4 linked regions of the Homo sapiens genome follow. The protein of the gene in region 2 purifies or fractionates together with the protein of the main gene of each other region. This does not show direct contact. Each region holds a gene or a part of one and is shown on either strand. Other genes may lie near its edges.

Evidence for each region. The genes of interacting proteins can lie anywhere in the genome.
Region 1: the proteins of POLR3E (region 2) and DNAAF10 purify together in Homo sapiens (affinity purification with mass spectrometry; 3 studies listed by BioGRID and IntAct, with this or other methods). This does not show direct contact.
Region 3: the proteins of POLR3E (region 2) and RPAP2 purify together in Homo sapiens (affinity purification with mass spectrometry; 3 studies listed by BioGRID, with this or other methods). This does not show direct contact.
Region 4: the proteins of POLR3E (region 2) and BDP1 purify together in Homo sapiens (affinity purification with mass spectrometry; 2 studies listed by BioGRID and IntAct, with this or other methods). This does not show direct contact.

The regions. Positions count from the first base shown.
Region 1 is NC_000002.12:68,144,028-68,147,527, reverse strand, and holds part of DNAAF10 (dynein axonemal assembly factor 10), read left to right. Parts: coding exon 1-61; intron 62-2,812; coding exon 2,813-2,943; intron 2,944-3,500. UniProt on the Homo sapiens protein: Key assembly factor specifically required for the stability of axonemal dynein heavy chains in cytoplasm.
Region 2 is NC_000016.10:22,324,909-22,328,408, reverse strand, and holds part of POLR3E (DNA-directed RNA polymerase III subunit RPC5), read right to left. Parts: intron 3,205-3,500; coding exon 3,143-3,204; intron 2,649-3,142; coding exon 2,131-2,648; intron 1,739-2,130; coding exon of another isoform or gene 1,649-1,738; exon of another isoform or gene 1-1,648. UniProt on the Homo sapiens protein: DNA-dependent RNA polymerase catalyzes the transcription of DNA into RNA using the four ribonucleoside triphosphates as substrates.
Region 3 is NC_000001.11:92,305,559-92,309,058, forward strand, and holds part of RPAP2 (putative RNA polymerase II subunit B1 CTD phosphatase RPAP2), read left to right. Parts: intron 1-1,629; coding exon 1,630-1,718; intron 1,719-3,500.
Region 4 is NC_000005.10:71,565,986-71,568,320, forward strand, and holds the end of BDP1 (transcription factor TFIIIB component B'' homolog), read left to right. Parts: 3' UTR 1-1,835; downstream 1,836-2,335. UniProt on the Homo sapiens protein: General activator of RNA polymerase III transcription. Requires for transcription from all three types of polymerase III promoters. Requires for transcription of genes with internal promoter elements and with promoter elements upstream of the initiation site.

The DNA.
Region 1 (3,500 bases), on a different chromosome or scaffold from region 2:
CAACATCTTTACAGCAGAGATATTTAGCTACTGGAGATTTTGGTGGAAACCTTCATATATGGTAAGATGATTTAGTCAGTATTCAGACAGATGAGATAGGCAATTTATTTGATAGTTTCATTACTCTTTCTCTGAAAGAGAGAATTTTAATTTTAAAATCTTTCTATGTTCCATTTTAACTATAAAAATATGAGAATTGTCTCTAATATATATTTCTAGATTTCATATTCAAAATCCATTAAAAAATACTAACCTATTTTTCTTTAGATATTTTGGATAATATTATCAATGCTTATTTTCACACACGCAGTTTGGTGCTAGCATTTAATGCCATGTATTTGTAAATAAAGGTCTGTTCCCCCTCCAACTTTAAAAATACAGTATATAAAAATGCATATGAATAACACTGAAAAAGTAGATATTATTTATATTTCAGCAAGAGATTTAGCACTGCAGAACGTTTGTTTTTTAAAGCTTTAACATCTAAGCACAACTTTTTAGAAACATATCTGTTGAACAAATCAAAATAAACTTTTTTTGAATGGGCAAAATCACAATTCTGCCAAATGCCTTTTTCGTGTTTTACCTAGAGTTGTTTCTTATTTAGAGTGGAATGAATTGAAATTCCTTTTTAATTACTTTGCAGGAAAATCTATTATTTTAATCATTTAAAGTATACAGCAGTGTTCTAAAATATTATGGAGAAAGTTCTAGAGTGTTCTAGAAAACCCGTCTTCCCTGCATCATGTTTTCTAACATGACCTTTCTTGAGTCTCACTTAGAACCTGCTACTGTATAATTACATTACTTATAACATATTTATCTGTCTTAGAATCATAACATTAAACAAAATGGAACTACTTCAATTTCTCCTTGCTTTAACTCCTTAATAATTAAATTAGCATGTATTCATTAGTTCTTAGATGCTTTGTCATATGCTTCGAGAGATACTGTGAGAAAGGCAAGTTTGAATGCTATTTTAAAAAATAAATATATTTCAACACAAGAGTATTCAAAATATTAGATAGTACCATTGACCATCTTTCTAATACAGTTTCCTAGTATAGTACAGATATTACCAATTTACTTTCATTGATAAATCTTATAATTTCATGTTAAAAAATAATGTTTTAAAGTCTATAAAATAGTAAAACAGTCATTTCAAGTAGAACCACAATCTTGTTTAATCTCTTGATTAGTTCATAATGATGATAAATGTCATTTCTAAACTAGGTTGAAATATCTCAAAAAATTTTTTTTGTCTTTGAGATGGAGTCTCGCTCTGTTGCCTAGGCTGGAGTGTAGTGATGCGATCTCGGCTCACTGCAACCTCCACCTCCCGGTTTCAAGTGATTCTCCTGCCTCAGCCTCCCAAGTAGCTAGGATTACAGGTGCCCACCACCACGCCTGGCAATTTTTTGTGTTTTTAGTAGAGATGGGGTTTCGCCATGTTGGCCAGGCTAGTCTCGAACTCCTGACCTCAGGTGATCTACTCACCTTGACCTCCCAAAGTTCTGGGATTACAGGCGTGAGCCACTGCACCTGGCCATAGATTTTTTATTAGTAAGGTTTTACTAATAAATCTTGGCCCAATAATAAATTGGAATTATATTTCATGTATAGTCACATTCATTTAAAAAATCTGTAAGTTATTGAAAACTAAATTATTAAGAGAAATGTAAATAGAAGTTTCCGTAGAAAAGCAAAAGAAGGGGAGAAATGGAGACGGGTAAGAAAAGGAATGTGTGAGGATCACCTAGTCAAGCCATTCATTGCCCAGTAGTGCAGTTGTGGTAATCAGTACTTTCCTGAATGCCTTTCTGTGAATTGACCTATTAGACGAACTTCAGCCTGTCTTGCAGTAATACATATTGTTACCAGTATGATGACACACTGAAAAATATGTCAGTAGAAAATCAGTGTGGACTTCAGTGGGAAAATAGTACATTATAAAGGAAGAAATGTGTACAAAGTAAACACTACTCATATTTTATCCTTTAAAAAGGTCATAAGATCCAACTACTGAGGCCTACTTTGGAAGAATTCTATATCACTTTGAATTTACATATATATATATTTAGATAGAAATATACTAGCTGCGTTTTAACAAAAACCTTTGCATATTTGGTGGATGGAATTTAACAATGAGTATGATGATTTAGTAAGGCCAGCTAATGGTGTCCATCTTCTATTCACCTCCCATATTTTTGTAACAGCCACTAAAACCCAGAATTGAAAAAAACTGTCCTGAGAGCCACGTCCTCAGATACATGGTTGTTTTTTTCCTTTTCTTTCTTTTTTTTTTTTTCTGAAACAGGGTCTTGCTCTGTCACCCAGGCTGGAGGGCAGTGGCATGATCTCAGCTCACTGCAGCCTTGACCTCCCTGGGCTTTACTCTATATTTGAAGCAGTATTTTTTCAGACTTCAGTGTACCACAGTCATTGTTTTGGGGACCCATCTGAAATCCTGATTCATTATGTTTGGGGAGGAGCCCATGAGTCCACGTTTATCAACAAGCAAACCTGGTAATTCATCTGTGGGGGTCTTGCATAGATCGTCTTTGAAGAACACTAAGTATGGTGAGCTCAGGATTGGAATTTCAAGTTGAATGATGACAGTTCTCAATGGGGGCTTGAAAGAAGTTGAATGGAGAGAAAATTTCAGAAGTGTAAATAAATGTATAAACTATCTTCATAGCAAAACCTTAATTTCTATACAGAAAAAATCTAACTATAATATATCTTTTTGAATTTCAGTAGTAGACTTATATGTTTGGGATATGTGGTGTAAGAAGCTGTGTTTGTTGTTTAGGAATTTAGAAGCTCCAGAGATGCCAGTATATTCTGTAAAGGGCCATAAAGAAATTATAAATGCCATAGATGGCATAGGTGGACTAGGAATTGGAGAAGGAGCACCTGAAATTGTGACTGGCAGCCGAGATGGTGAGTCCCTGTATTCTATGTATTTTGTTTATTTATTTTAATGGAAATCTCTATGCAGCAGTACATCCTCTCTGAGTAAAAAATCCCCTTCAGTCACCTTGACTCCCTAAATCTAACAGTCTTGCTGCTACTTTTTTAACAGACAAGTTTGATTGCTTATCTCTCGATTGTTTCAGACTTTTGGCTATTTTGAGATAGATTCATAGCACTTATTAACACTATTTTAGTGTTGAGCTGGTTCAGCTACTAACAATGATGGTTTCCTCTGAACCTTGAAGGATTTAAAATGTCTTTACAGGTTTTTGAGGCAGCTGACGATATAATGTGGGTGGCAGCTTTTCATTTTCTTTTTTTAAAAGGCAGAATTAGTACTTGTGAAAATTGTCATATTGACAGCTGCTTGAAAACTGAAGTTCTGTGATCCATCCACTAAGCATTATAGAGAGTTCCAAAGGCACCAACTCAGCTCTTCCACCCTGCAGTGACCAACAAGGGCCAGGTCTTTTGGTGTCCGAAGTGGTACTGCATGACTTTAATAGAGTCAGAAATGTTGTTGC
Region 2 (3,500 bases):
TGGGTTCCAATCCCAGCTTCTGCTACTCACCATCTCTGAGGGCCTTGGGCAGCCACAAACCTGTGCCTCTCACCTCACCATGGGGAGGAGGCCAGCACACCCCCCAGGGCCTGACAGGGCTTCAGCGAGAGGGGGAGTGTGATGGGCCCAGTGAAATGCCCGGCTTCGAGTCTGCAGATATCCTCCGTACAGTGGGGAAGCTGCGTCTGTTTCCCATCAGCCTGGCACCAACTCAACTGTGCTTTAACACCCAGAGTCCTCCCTCCTGAAGATGCCAACCCTGATGGAGGGGCGCCCCCTTCCCCATAACTCTTGGGGTACCCTGGGGGTTCTTTTCAACTGCTTCCCACATGTACCATGTCAGTGTGGGTTAGAGGCACTGCCTGACTCCCAAGCAATCCAGGCCACTTGGTCCAAAGGTAGACCAGGACAAGTGTGACACAGGCCTGGGTCCTGGAGAGAAGGGGACAGGGGAGGGGGCATCTGGGATGGTAGTTTCCAGTCCTGGTTCCATCACACAAGTAGCAATAATGGTTACTACCAGTAAAAGCCCTGTGAGGCCTCCAATACACATTTGCATTTGAGCATTAGAAACTGGGGAGGTAGTACATGGGGAAAAGTAAGCTCAGAGAGGTTTGCTCACTGTCCATGGTCACACAGCTAATAAGCAGCAGAACCAGGAGTTCAAGTCAAGTTCTCGATCTATTCACTTGCCCTGGACCTCAGCTCCCTCATGTACAACACAGAGGTGGCTGGGATCGGAGGTCTCTTACGTCTTGGATGTGACTACAATACAGTCTCCTTGTCAGGATGGCAAGGAGAGCATTACAGTTAGGGCCATGGTGTCTCCTGGAGACGCTGGCCCCACCCCAAAGCAACATGGACAGAGGGGGTCCGGAAGGAGGGGTGAGGGTGTCTGAGGGTGGCCATGTCCCACCCCTCACCTCTGTCCACTCCAGCGGCCCAAAACAACTAATGTCAGGCAGGTGTCCTGCCTGTCCTGGCCCAGCTCATGAAGAAAGGTGAGCTTGTGGAGACCCAGACCCATGTGCTGGGTGGGCAGGAGCTCCGAACTCTGCCAGTACCTCCCACAGGGGGCTGCCTGCCAGCAGGGCCGATCCCCTGAGACAGCCTAGGCTCCACAAGGCCTCCTGTCCTAGTTTCTATTCCTCATACACAGGGATGGGCCTTGGCCTCAGATCATCACCCAAGGCTGCAGGCCCGCTCCTGACCTTGGCAATGAAAACATCAATGCTTTCTTAGAGACCACCACAGCCCCACCTCACCCCATTTTGCTGCCAGGTCTGGGCAGAGCCTTGTGGAAAAGGAGCACGGGAAAGGCGTGCCTCAGGCAGCACCTGGCGCTCTCTATCCTCAGCGCAGGGAAACGGTCCCCAGCAAGCACTCTGCTCCCCCGTCAGGGCCCCTCCCAGTGACAGAAAAGCAGCCCAGGGGGAAGGGGCAGGAGGCTTGCAATACCACACTCAAGGCCTGGCACTGGAAGTGCTGAGAGCACAGCGCTGAGCTGGTCAGCTTGCTTCTGATGCACAGGGAGGCCGCCAGGACCCAGGCCCAAGCTGGGGCGTGGCGCAGCTGTGGGGAAGCAGCTCATCTTAGCTGAGCAGAAAGGATTCAAAACTCCAGGCCACTATACTGAGGTCCAAATTCCAGCTCTACTACCTCCTAGGTAGTGACCTTTAAACGTACATTTCATTCCTTGGAGCCTCAGTTTCTTCATCTGCAGATTGCAAAGAAGATCAAACGATCTTAGAAGTTAAATCATTCCAAACAATGGCAAAGCTAGTAGGAAACAGGTGTTCTTGGTGGGGGACAGGGTGAGAAACCAGGCAGGGGCCCTGTTTCACTAGGCCCTGCTGCAGGCCAGGCAATAGGCCGGGCCTTCAGACACCGTATTTAGCCCCTACCACAGTCCTGTGACATAAAACCCAACATGATCCCATTTCATGAGAATAGAGCCTCAGAGAGGCTGACTTGCCCATGTCACACCTAGGCCCACGTGAGAGCAGATGCTCACCAAGCATGGCCTCCCGTGTCCCCACGTGGCCTCCCAACAGCTGGTTCTCCCCACCCCCCACCCCCCATGCCCCTGGCAGGCAGGGCTCTACTTACAGGCACCAGTATCTGCTTGCAACCGGCGGCCAGCACCGTGTCCTGTAGCATGCGGTCCGAGATGCCGCTGAAGAGTGTGTGGCCGGGGGGCAGGCTGGCCAAGTGCAGATTGAAGAGGCGCTTGAGTTCGCTCAGCGTGAGCACAAACTGTCTCTGAAAGGTGGCCTCCACGAAGGCCTTCAGTTCCCGAGCCACAGGGGTGCTGGCGCAGCCCTGGGGCGGGTGCCCGTTGAAGCTGTCTGTGCCCGCAGCCCGCCCGAGAGGCAGCCCGTTGGCCAGCTTGCTGTGGAGGCCGCTGGGGGAAGTGTCCATGGGCTCCTCCTCCGCCTCCTGCTCCTCGTCCTCCTCGCCCTCCTCGCTCACGGGCTCCTCCTTGATCCGCACACCGGGCGGGACCGCAGGCACCCGCAGCTGCTCCTTCCGCCGCTGCAGCTCCCGCTCCAGCAACGCGTGGTTCTGCTGGGCCTTGGTTTTGGCTACTTGGATCCGCTGGTCCCCACAGACCAGCCCGGCAGGCCCTGCGGGGAGGGAGGCAGCACTGCTCAGGAGGGCACAGGGATCTGAAGCCAAAAGCCCAGCAGGGGACCGCGGGGCTGCAGCAAGTGGTCCCGTCCTGGTCTCATCCCCAACCTTTCTCGAAAATCAGCCACCCCATCAGTGGAAGAGAGAACCGTCCCAGCGTGCCGAGAGTCATGCGGGGAAGGGTGCTGCTGAGTTCCTCCCCCCAGCAGCTCTTCCGGGCCCGCTTGTTGACCCAAGAGGGTGAGTGAGCCTCAGAGACCTGGAACCCAGACTCAGCCCTGGAATCCGCAAGCCTCCGTCCCTGAGGCTCTGCTGCTGGGCAAGCGACCAGCTGCGGTCTGTGGGTGGCAGGAAAGGAAGGAGGGTGAAGGGTGAACGGTGAGAGCCCTCCACCCTCTCCAGGTCCGGGCCTGACAAGCTCTAGCACAGCAGCCCTTCCGGAGCCACAGTGTAGGAGCCGGGGCCTCCCAGCCCAAAGCCCCTCACACACCTGATTGTGCATCCGGCTTCTTTGGCATGGTTTCCTTTACAAGATTATAGACTTTTTCCAGTCTGAAAAGAAGAGTAACCCCATTAACTTTAAACCACGTCCCCTACCATCTGCTTCACAAGAGAAACAACCACCCCTTAGGCCCCAGGACACGCTGGTTACTGACAGCGCAGGCTTGGAGCTCAGCCAGCCCTACTGAGTCCCTCTTCTGGCAGAGTGCACAGCCCCAGGACCACCCAGACCCCATCAGTCTTCTGCCAACACCCCTCTGGTCCCCAGGCCCCAGCTCTTGCTCCTGAGTGCTCCCTCTCTCCATCACATCCCTCTTCCCTGAGCCCTCAGAGCACGGCCACCCTGA
Region 3 (3,500 bases), on a different chromosome or scaffold from region 2:
AAACTTTTGTTCATCAGAAGTTTCAAAAAAAAAATGAAAAGAGAAGCCACAAAGCAGAATGTTAACTGACCATAGAATCATATCTAGAATATATGATCTATAAGAAAAAGACAGACAAACTAATAGAAAAATTTACACAAGGAACTTGAATGGCTAATAAACATATGAAAAGATGCTAAATATTATCAGTAATCAGAGAAATAGCAAATAAAAACACACTGAGTTTTGTTTTCACAGCCCACAAAATTGCGAATGTTAGGAAATCTTTTTGCAACTAGTGGGAATGAAAATTGGTACAGCCTTTTTGAGAAATGGCTTGGCATTTGTCTGGTGAAGTCTTTGCACATTCTCTATAATTAAGCCTTTCTATTCCTTGGTATAAACCCTAAAAAAATTCTTACACATGTACACCAGCATGTATGTATAAAAATGTTTATAGCTGGATAAACAATGTCGTATATACACACAATGGAATATTAGCCTTTAAAAAAAGGAAGGAAATTCTGACACATGCTACAAGGTGGATGAACCTTGAAGATAATATGCTAAGTGAAATAAGCCAGCACAAAAGGACAAATACTGTATGCTTTCACTTATATGAGGTACCTAGAGAAGTCAGATTAACAGAGACAGAAAGTAGAATGATCATCAAGAGAGGTGGGAATGGGAAGTTAGTGTATAGGGTTTCAGTTCTGTAAGATAAAAAGAGTTCTAAAGATGAATGGTGGTAATAGTTGCACAACAGTGTGAAGGTACTTAATACCACTGTGCTATATACTTAAAAATGCTTATGATGATAAATTTTAGATTATGTATATTTTACCACAATTGTGAACATTTTTTAATTGTAAAAAAAAGTTTATAGTAACATTGTAGTGATAGCAAAAAAATTAGAAACAACTCAATTGTCTATAAATGGTAAAGTGTAATACTCTAACAATGGAATGTAGTACACAGTGAAAATTAATAAGCTACAACTACTTGAATGAATCTTAAAAACATAATTTTAAACAAAAGAAGTGGCTAGGTACGGTGGCTCACACCTATAATTCCAGCACTTTGGGAGGCCAGGGAGAGAAGATAGAGACCAGCCTGGGCAACAAATAGAGACCCCATCTCTACAAAAAAATAAAATAGCCAGGTGTGGTGGCACGCCTGTAGTCCAAGCTACTCAGGAGGCTGAAACCAGAGGATTACTTGAGCCCAGGAGTTTGAGGCTACAGTGAGTGAGACCCTGTCCCTAAAAAAAATAAAATTTAATAAGTGAATGAAGTAAGATAAGAATGTATAACAATATTATTCCATTCAAAAAAATGTTTAAAAATAGGCAAAACTGAATATTTTTTAATAGGGATATGTACACAGGTGCTAAAACTGAAAGGAAATGAGGGAATGATTAACACCAAATTTATGGTAGTGGTTACTTCTGGGGAATGCGGAGGGTGATGCAGTTGGGAAGGGGCACATAGAGGCCTTCAAAGGTTCAGTATCTTATTTCTTACCTTGGGTGGTAGATCTGTAGGTTTCCATTTTATTCTTTGAACGATACATTTATGTTTTATACTCTCAACTGTATGTAGGTAATGTTTCATGATAAGAAAAAAACTAGATTTATAATGTTCTTTTCAGTCTTTTTGCAGCAATTTTTGTTATCAAGCATCTAAGTTTTTTGAAGCACAAATTCCCAAAACTCCAGTATGGGTTCGAGAAGAAGAGAGGTAATTTAAGTCATTGTGTATATACATTTGTTCATATATTCTAATAATTTGTTTCTGCTTTTTGAGATTAGCTGAGAGTAAGTCTAGTTTTCTGTAAAAAGTTACCATTTTATATACTTTATGGGGAAATGGTTATATTTTAAGCATAGCTATTAAGGATTTTACACTTAAAATCAGAAAATGCATACATACAAATGTTATTTGTTTGTTGTTTTAGCTTTAATTGCAAAATCAGAACTTTAACTCCAGTGTCCTGTGATGCTAGTTATGTCTGTGAATCCTGTTAATATAATAATCCTGGAGGAAGAATGTTAAATTTTTTCAGAAGTTACTGGGTCTTAGGATCCAGGTGAACTCTGCTATGAGAAAGGTTAGAAAGTTCAGGTTCATTTAATCTTTATAAAAATCAGTACACTATTTTATCAATTTAAAGACACAATTAAAAAGTAATTTTTTTTTTTGTAAAAAGAGTTTATGGGCAATGCTGGAGTTTAGCCTCTTGGGAAATGATTTAAATACTGGCAATGTTTTACTAGATGCTAAAGTCAAGAAAATTTTATTATTGAGGGTGAAATGGCATGATAATATAAAGGTAACAAGTTATCCTTATGGTAATTAAACTGTATTGCCTAGAAATTCCAATGAAATGCTTAATGAGATAATGCCCAAAATAAATTCATGTTTGAAAGAGTGTATTATAGCAACACAAGGCAGTGTTACTTGTGGTAAGGTAGGACCTATGCTAAATAAACTAATGACCTAAACATAATGAGATGCAGGTTAGCTAAAAAGCTCTGGCTCAAAAAAAAAAAAGCAAACCTTGAAGTCTTTTCTGATGCGTAAGGCGATGTAACACCACTCTCAATTCAAATAACATCAATTATGCTGACAACAGCACCTGTGATGGCAGACACCTCTGCCTGCCGATCCAATCCTGTGTGGTTTAGGATATGGAAAACTTAACACTGTGTGGCCCTTGATAATTGAGTTAAACATAATTAAGACTAAATTGTTCATCATTTCACCACCAGTCTGCCAGCTTCCTTGTTGGGAAAATAAAAGACTCTGGCATTGTTCGACATGACTGGGAAGCTAAGAGTACTTTTTTACTTATCCTTTTTCTCCTTTCTTAATATTTCTGTCACTAGAGCTGCCCAGTACTTCCCCAGTCCTCTGAGAGCAACATGTTTTATTCCCCACTGAAACCAGTGTTTCCTCAAGTTATCCTTAACTTTGCTTCCAAAGATATTTTCTCTACATCTTAAATTTAACCCTTTGTGCCACCCTCATATCTACCTCAACTGCTTCAAAACCATTTACCAAATTACCTTTCCTGCCATCTCTGTTTTCTTCAAGCATAGGTATTGGTCCTTCCTTTAGCTAATTTAAAACAAATCTTCCAGCCTGGTGTAGTGGCTCATGCCTATAATCCCAACACTTTGAGAAGCCAAGGTGGGTGGATCACTTGAGTTTAGGAATTTGAGACCAGCTTAGCCAATATGGTGATACCCTGTCTCTACTAAAAATACAAAAATTAATTGGGTATGGTGGCGGGCACCTGTAATCCCAGCTACTCAGGAGGCTGAGGCAGGAGAATCACTTGAACCTGGGAGGCGGAGGTTGCAGTGAGCCAAGATCGTGCTGCTGAACTCTAGCCTGGGCCACAGAGTGAGATTCTGTCTCAAAAATTAAATAAATAAATAAAATGAAGTAAAACAGGTCTTCCTGTAACCTTTTCCTAAAATCTCACCATCCTCTATTCAGAATGCTCACTGTTTCCCA
Region 4 (2,335 bases), on a different chromosome or scaffold from region 2:
AAGGCATTAAATTTATGTTTGTCTCCTTTTTCTGTTTAATTTTAAAGATATTTAAAATGATATAACTAAAAATGTTTAGCTGGTGTATATGTTTTGAATACCTTTTTCCCCTCAGTTTAGTATATTGACTTTGTACTGTAAATTTTTCTGCTTTTCTTGGATAATCTCAGGATTTTCATGAGGATAGGGGGAACTCAACTTTATTTATGAGACAAAATTTCCATACAAAGCTCAATCTCCTTTATACACCCACAGACATAATATTAGTTTTTAAAAAGCCAATTTCTTCATAGTTTTTTCCCATTAAATTCTCAAGGAACACTTGGATCTTTAAGCACGGAACATAATCATGATGTTAAAAACAGAGAAAATAAGGCTTTATAAAGTTAATGATTATCATCAGTATGAATTTAAGGTTTGTTTTAATTTCAAGATTTGATTTTTTATACGTGTAATTCTATTATCTACCCAAGCAGATCTGTAGTGGTTCCAATTAGACTTCTCAAACAGCAAATTTATCCTGATTTTATTTGAAAAGCCTCTTGGATTGATAGTATAGTAGCTCAGGCATTGGAAACTTTCTGCAAACTGTTTTGGGTTTGCAGGCCAGATGGTCTCTGTGGCAGCTACTCAGCTCTGCAATTTCAGTGTGAAAGAAGCCATAGACAGTACTTGAATGAAGGACTGTGGCTGGATTGGCCTTTTAGTTTGACCCCCTACATTAGGCCCCAAATTTTCTTACCCTGAGGTGCTGATATCTGTATGGATGAGTTATTTGTCACTAAAGTTATGAGTTGTGCCTAAAAGTTAAAACTGTTGACTGTATTATGTAATGATCAGTATTTCAGTTGGGAAGATATTTTAGAGTCTAGATAATTATGTTTGTATATTGAAAAAATGGTGGCCAGTTTTTAAGTTCCTTAATAGAAGAGAATTATGTCTCAGCACATATAACAGTAATGCTAATTTATTGAAACTACTGCTGTTAGAGCACTTCTTATTCATTGTCTTTTAGTGAAATTTATGGCGTAACACTTTGTCAGAGAGGAGGCTATATAATTCGGAGCGGAAATTGTCTATAAGTAGGCATTTATTTCATGATTGATATGTCACAGAAATCATGGTAGTAAATCACATTGCTATTTGAATACCCTGTTTTTGTAAGTTTTTAAAACTCATATTCTGAAAAGATTTCATTCTCTTAGTGTTAGCTTGGGAGTTAGATTGCCATGATTAAACTATTATTTATCCTTGTGTAATATTAGTTTTTAACTTTAACATCTGTTTCTTTTTAATCTATAATGAGCTAGTTTTATGGAAAATGGAATTTCTTACTATATAAAGAATACAGAGACTCATTGTATTAGAGAATCAAGTCAGCCAGCTAAAGTATCCTACTGTTAAATCCTTAAACCTAATTTTGGAAAAGAGAAAGTTAATCAATGTATTTACCTTACATGTTGGAAAGAACTATGTTAGGTCTGATTCATGTGAAGAAGATGTTGCAAAGGATTTATTTCACAAATTTTAAAGGAGATATGAGTAAAAGTTTTTATCTTTTCTTGACTTTTTCTCCTGAACACTTATGTCTTAGCAAGTGGTCAACATGAGGATTTGAACGCCTAATTGTTGGTAAATGGTTGAGGCATGACAAAAATATTAATATCCACTGTTTACCATCATGTTATTTGAAACAAAAGTGACCATGTATACTATCTTGCTTGAAGAAGTCTTTGACAGAAAAAGCAATATCATGTCATTTATAAATTTTCTTGTTCTAAAGAAAGCAGTTATATATATATATAAATTATGTAAATAAAAGTTATTTTATATCATTTCTGTTGTGTCCTTTTAAGATGACTAAATAAAGAATTGGCTGGGTATCGTGGCTTACACCTGTAATCCCAGCACTTTCGGAGGCCGAGGTGGGAGGATTGCTTGAGCCCAGGAGTTCAAGACCAGCCTGGGCAACATAATGAGACCTCATCTCTACAAAAAAATTAAAAATCAGCCAACTGTGGTGGTGTGTGCTTTTGGTCCCAGTTACTCAGGAGGCTGGGATGAGAGGTTCGCTTGAGCCCAGGAGGAGGTTGAGGCTGCAGTGAGCTGTGATTGCCCCACCACACTCCAGCCTGGATGACAGAAGAAGACCCTGTCTTTGTGGGGAGGAGACAAATTTTTGACAGGTGTGCATGTCGTTATTTCAAAGCTGTAGGAGTCTGCAATGTGATTGTCCTAATAGTATTTGGAAGAGACTCCACACAGCATCTCTGTTTGCTGCAGCATCGCATCCTGAATCTGCTGGAGAGCCCTGTCTTACATTGGGTTTCACTAA